Homo sapiens: one gene and its partner. The protein of the gene in region 2 interacts with the protein of the main gene of each other region in a pairwise test. Each region holds a gene or a part of one and is shown on either strand. Other genes may lie near its edges.

Region 1 (3,500 bases), about 14 Mb from region 2:
AGTGGCTGAAGACTCGGGAAAGTTCCAGTAGAGACAACAGGAATCCCCTCCTCTCTACACGGAAGCTTACAGGAAGGAAATCCAAGAACTACAGAATTTATGCTGAGGCAGCAGAGCAAAACTGATGATACTGGAGAGCGCGGGCTCTGGTCTTTGTGTGTGTTCAAACCTGCCCTGGCCACTTACTTGCGGTTGGGATCCCAGATAAGACAATGTACCTCTGGCACAATGTCTTCATTTGCATATCAGGGCTGTTATTTCACCCCAGGCAGCTTCGGCAAGGATGAAATGAAATGCTGCACATGCCGTGTTTGGGGAAGTGGTTGGCACACAGGATGATTCCACACTGGCACTGGTAGCATTATTATGCTCGGAAGATTGCAAACATATTGATGCCACCTTAAAGCATAGGCCTTGGATTCAAGGACAGCTGCCAGTGCCCGGCAACGACAAATGCGTCAGAGTCTGACCCCTTTTAGGGGGTGGAATGGTTGGATCCAAGAGCTGCCTGGACGCCTGGGACACTCAAGGCAAACGCTCAGGTGCTCGGAATGCCTGAGCCCTTCTGAGGTCACAGGAAACAGGTGGGATCTGAAGGCAGGCCGAGCCGAGCAGCCAAGCCTTGCTCTCACCAGCAGGATCTACCAAGCACAGACTTGTGCTAGGCACCGAGCTTGCCACTGGAGACAGGAAAGAAATGGCAGACAAGGCCGCAGCTCTCTACTGGGAAAGAGAAAACAAACAAGTACCTGCTGTGTGCAGAGATAACTGGGTAGTTCTGGAGCTGGGTGCTGCAGAGAAAATACCACAGGATGGTGGGAGAGAGTGAGTGAATGGGTAAGGCCTCGCTGAAGCTCACACATGAAGGGTGAGCAGGGATGAGCCAGGTGAAGGCAGGGGATCCCAGGCAGAGGGGACCCCAAGTCAAAGGTTCTAAGGAAAGGAAGAGCCTGGAGGCCCATGTTTGGAGGGGAGGAGAACGGGAAGGGCTGGGTGGAGCCCACAGGACGTTCAGCCTTGCAGGCCATGCTGACAAATCTGGATTTATCCAGTGTAAAGGTTGGGGCCCAGGCTCTGGACTCTTAGGACCCAGTGGCCATCACCATCAATGCTGCAAAACATCCTCTCTCCTCTGAGCAGAGGGTAACTGCCTGTTTTCTCACCCTCTCCCCCAGAGAAAGGCAAGTTCTCAAGGACCGTTTCCACTCACGCTCTGCTCTCACAGATGCAACGCAGGAATTAATTCTGGGTAAATAAGTTCCCAAAATTCTCTGTGGCAAACCTGGGGGAGTTTAATTTAGCAAAGGCATTTTAAACTTACTGCAAAAGGCAAGGCCTGCCTTCTAAACATGTGTATGGAGTAACTACTACTGTCTCTAGAATTTCCTCCCTTTCTTTGAACACCATAAACAGCGACAGCGAAATGCAGTGCCCTACGCGGGTCAGTTTTCAGGGGTGAACGAGTGCCCATTACCTAGAGTTTACTGACTCACCGGGAAGGACAAGCATGAACTCCTAGACTCCATGGCTGGAGACAGGCGCACTGGCCCTAGCCAGCCCTACCTGCTTCCATGGCCTCGGGCTTCAGCCCCTGTGAAATGGTGCAGCCAGGACTCAGGCATCCCTGAAGGTTCTTCCCAGCCCTTACATTCTGTCAGGTCCTCACCCTGGACCAGAGGCAGTGTTAAAGGTCAAGGAAAAGACTGTTCTTCCTGAAGAGGGATATGATGTCCATTGAGGCCTACTCAGCTGCCAAAAGGCCAGAATAGAAAAATAAGGTTGGGAGGAAGGGCCTTAAACTCTAGCTGGCAATTAATTTATTCCTGGGTAGGTTCCTTTGATCCTATGACCAGTGGTTCTCACCCAGGAGTAACTTCATCTCCCTGGAGACACTGGTCAAAATCTGGAGACATTGTGACTGTCATGTTTGTGGGGGTGTGGAGGAAACTGTTACAGACATCTAGTGGATGGAGACCAGGGATGCTGACCAACATCCTAGGAGGCTCAGAACAGTGCCCTACCAGCAAGTGACCCAAGTCCAAATGTCAACTGAGCTGAGGGCAAGAAACCTTGCATTAATCTTGGGCAAAAAAATTGAGCTGGATCTCTAACTCACATTATACACCAAAATAAATCCCCAATAGATTAGATGGCACAAACCAGGGTGACCCCCCACCCTGGCTTCTGGGATTCACCGCCTCTCTCCCTCCCCACTCAGACTGTGGCTTTAAATGTGTACAGGCTCCTACGACCTCAGTAGGTTAGATAACTATGGAACACAAAGTCTCTTGGGTGTCAATGAAATCCCATAACCCAATGGTTCTCAAGTGGGGGCAATTCTGACATTAAGGGGACACTGGACAGTGTCTGGAGACCTTTTATCTTCTCATGACTGGGAGTGGATGGGTGGGATGACTGGGTGCTATGGCATCACATGAGTAGAGGCTAGAGGGGCTACCCAACATCCTCCAAAGCACAAGATGGCCACCACCAGCCCCAATGTCAAGAATACTGAGGTGGAAAAACCCTGGTATAACTCACAGGGTGCTTTCTCTCTACTCAGGCATCCAATTAGGAGAATCACAGCTAGAAGTAACTGACATGTATCTCCACATTCCAGTAGGTCAATTACCAGAAGTATATTCTCTCTCACACCACAATCCTCAGACTTGCGTATCATCGTTCCCATTTTACAGATGCAAGAGCTAAGGTCAGACAACTTGCCCATGTTTCTAGGGCAGAAGGCAAGACACAAACCAAGGACAGCCAATCCAGGTGCTTCCAACCATGCCACAAGTTGCCAATGGGAACCTGCTGGTCAGCTCTGGTTTAGAATTCTCCCGATGTTGGCAAGGCAGCGGAGAAACCCACACTGTACACTGAGGCTCTGCTAGCACATGCCAGTGGTTCTCAAATTTCCTGGTCTCGGGACCCTTTTCCACGCTTGTCAATGACTGAACATCCCCAAGAGCTTTTGGAAATGTGGGATGTAGCTACTACTGACACCATATTAGAAATGAAACCTAAGACAATTTCAAAATACTTAAGATTATAATAAACTCCAGAAAGGTTTAGTTAAATAACATATTTTTATGAAAAATAAGTATTTAAAAAAATCTGAGAAGAGTGGCATTATTTTACATTTTGACAAATGTCTTTAACGTCTGACTTAATAGAAGATAGCTGAATTCTCTCTCTTTTTTTTTTATTAAAGAGAGGGGCTTTGTTGCCCAGGCTGGCTTTGAACTCCTGGGCTCAAGAGATCCTCCCACCTCAGCCTCCCAAGTAGCTGGGACTGCAGGTGTTTGCCACTGTGCCCGGCCTGAATTCTCTTATCTGCTTCTATAGTTCATCTGTTGGCATATCACACATCCAATAACCTCTGGAAAAAAACTCCACTGTCCATTTTCAAGTGAATAAGAGTGAAAAAAGAGCAGATAGTGTCTTTGTGTTGTTATGAAATAGTTTTGAACTTGCAGTCCCCTTGAAAAGGTCTTGGG
Region 2 (2,737 bases):
GCGCCCACCACCACGCCCAGATAATTTGTTTTTTCTTTCTTTTTTTTTATTATTATTATACTTTAAGTTTTAGGGTACATGTGCACAATGTGCAGGTTTGTTACGTATGTATACATGTGCCATGCTGGTGTGCTGCACCCACTAACTCGTCATCTAGCATTAGGTATATCTCCCAATGCTATCCCTCCCCCCTCCCCCCACCCCACAACAGTCCCCAGAGTGTGATATTCCCCTTCCTGTGTCCATGTGTTCTCATTGTTCAATTCCCACCTATGAGTGAGAATATGCGGTGTTTGGTTTTTTGTTCTTGCGATAGTTTACTGAGAATGATGATTTCCAGTTTCATCCATGTCCCTACAAAGGACATGAACTCATCATTTTTTATGGCTGCATAGTATTCCATGGTGTATATGTGCCACATTTTCTTAATCCAGTCTATCATTGTTGGACATTTGGGTTGGTTCCAAGTCTTTGCTATTGTGAATTGTATTTTTAGTGGAGATGGGGTTTCACTGTGTTAGCCAGGATGGTCTCTATCTCCTGACCTCGTGATCCGCCCGCCTCGGCCTGGGATTACAGGTGTGAGGCACTGCACCCAGCCCATGCCGGGCTAATTTTTTTTGTATTTTCAGTAGAGACAGGGTTTCACCATGTTGGCCAGGCTGGTCTCAAACTCCTGACCTCAGGTGATCCACTCATCTTGGCCTCCCAAAATGCTGGGATTACAGGTGTGAGCCACCGCACCCAGACCTTTCATGTCTTTTCTTATTAGTATCGCCATTCTGTCCCCAAAGCACAGGTATCTGTTGGTTGGGATCATGGCCAAGAGGAACAGAACTCTCACAGTTGAAACAGAAGAAAGAGTTACACAGAGTTGACCACTGGGGGAAGGGAGATGTGGTCCCACTGTGGCCTCCCCAGATGCAGCTCAGTGGCCGTCCACATGGGTACAGATGACTGTCCCTGGGCCAGCCTCACTCACCGGAGCTAGGTGTTGACAGGCAGCTGGCGTGGTTCCCTGGGACCCCAACTTCCGTGGTATCCACAGCCGTTTTACCCGTGTAAATGGTAGCCTCTTCTTGAAACTTCCCCATGTTCTTTTTATACCGGATTCTTTTGTTGCCAAACCAGTTAGAGACCTGCGGACACACAGGAGTCACTGGAGGAGCTGACCCAGCGACTTCTGAGACACGACGCAGTCTGTGGGTTCCCTGGGGTGCCCGTTGCTCCCACTGCCTTAGAAGACAACACTGCACCCTGGGGCTATGAAGAGTCTGGGACTGAGAAGGTGGCGCCCTCTGAACCACGGACCCAGGGAGATGTCCACATGGGTTGAGGACACCCTGGAGCTGGCGTGTCTTAGAACTCTGCTGCCTAAAACTGGATGTTGCTGGAACCTGAACCTGGGAAGGGGCTGGAAGGAAAACAAGACTGTCTGAGGTGGGCCGGGAGGGACAGCGCCTCTGGCTGCCATGCAGCAGGCGGCAGGTTACGTTCCGTGTTCTCTTCAGGAAAAGTGAGAGCCAGGGAGACCTGGGGACCCAGTAACTGCGATCGAATCCCAAACTTATCAAATGAAAACAAGGTGAACTCTGAAGGGGTAGTTGGAATGTACCAGGTGCTAGGATAAGCACTTCTCATATATTCATATATTTTTCTTAATTTTAATTAAAAAAAGGTTTTTTGGCCGGGCGTGGTGGCTCACGCCTGTAATCTCAGCACTTTGGGAGGCTGAGGTGGGGGGATCATCTGAGGTCAGGAGTTCGAGACCAGCCTGGACAACATGGAGAAACCCCATCTCTACTAATAATACAAATATTAGCTGGACACAGTGGCACATGCCTGTAATCCCAGCTACTCGGGAGGCTGAGGCAGGAGAATCACTTGAACCTGGGAGGCAGAGGTTGCAGTGAGCCAAGATCGCACTGCAATTTAGCCTGGGCAACAGAGTGAGACCCTGTCTCAGAAAAAAAAATATATTTTTTCTTTTTTTTTAGAGATAGGGTCTCGCTCTGTTGCCCAGGCTGGTCTCAAACCCCTGGGCTTGAGAGTTCCTCCCGCCCTGGCCTCCCAAAATGCTGGGATTCCAGGCCCAGCCTCATATATCATTCTGCCTCATCCTCATGAGGACCTGGGAGGCAGCTGTTATCGTCCCTGCTGTAAGAAAGCAGAGGCAGGAGAAAAAGGAGCTAGTCCATGGCCAAGGTGGAATCAGCCCAGCTCTGACTGCAAACTGGCACTGGAGTCCCCCAGGGAGGGGCTTGTCACCTTTGGTGGCACTGCTGATGCTTGGGCTCCATCTGCTCTGTGGGGGCTGTCCTGTACACTGCAGGGTGCTGAGCGGTATCCTTGGCACCCACTGGGTGCCAGGAGCACTTCCCTTCTCTAGTCGTGACAACAAAAATGTCCCCTGGGCAGATTCACATGGGTGAGCACCCCAGGGCCAGCGCCTTCCTACAGGCATGGAGACGTCCATCCAGGGCCACATTTCAGTATCCCAAAGCAAGTAAAATAAACGTATAGTATAATAACACACAGAAATGAAACAGCTGAGGGATGGAAGAGGATTGTGGATGACCTTTGCTACTTCAAACATTTTTTTCTCACTCTGTCACCCAGGCTGGAGTGCAGCGGTGCGATCTCAGCTCACTGCAACCTCTGCCTCCCAGATTCAAGTGATTCTCTTGCCTCAGCCTCACCAGTAGCTGGGACTACAGGCACGTGCTACCAAGCCTGG

Evidence for each region. Proteins that work in one complex are often made in the same cells at the same time.
Region 1: the proteins of PBX4 (region 2) and RANBP3 interact in a two-hybrid assay, tested with the Homo sapiens proteins (one large-scale study listed by BioGRID).

Annotation. Positions count from the first base shown.
Region 1 is NC_000019.10:5,968,141-5,971,640, forward strand, and holds part of RANBP3 (ran-binding protein 3), read right to left. Parts: intron 1-3,500. UniProt on the Homo sapiens protein: Acts as a cofactor for XPO1/CRM1-mediated nuclear export, perhaps as export complex scaffolding protein. Bound to XPO1/CRM1, stabilizes the XPO1/CRM1-cargo interaction. In the absence of Ran-bound GTP prevents binding of XPO1/CRM1 to the nuclear pore complex.
Region 2 is NC_000019.10:19,563,951-19,566,687, forward strand, and holds part of PBX4 (pre-B-cell leukemia transcription factor 4), read right to left. Parts: intron 1,140-2,737; coding exon 983-1,139; intron 1-982.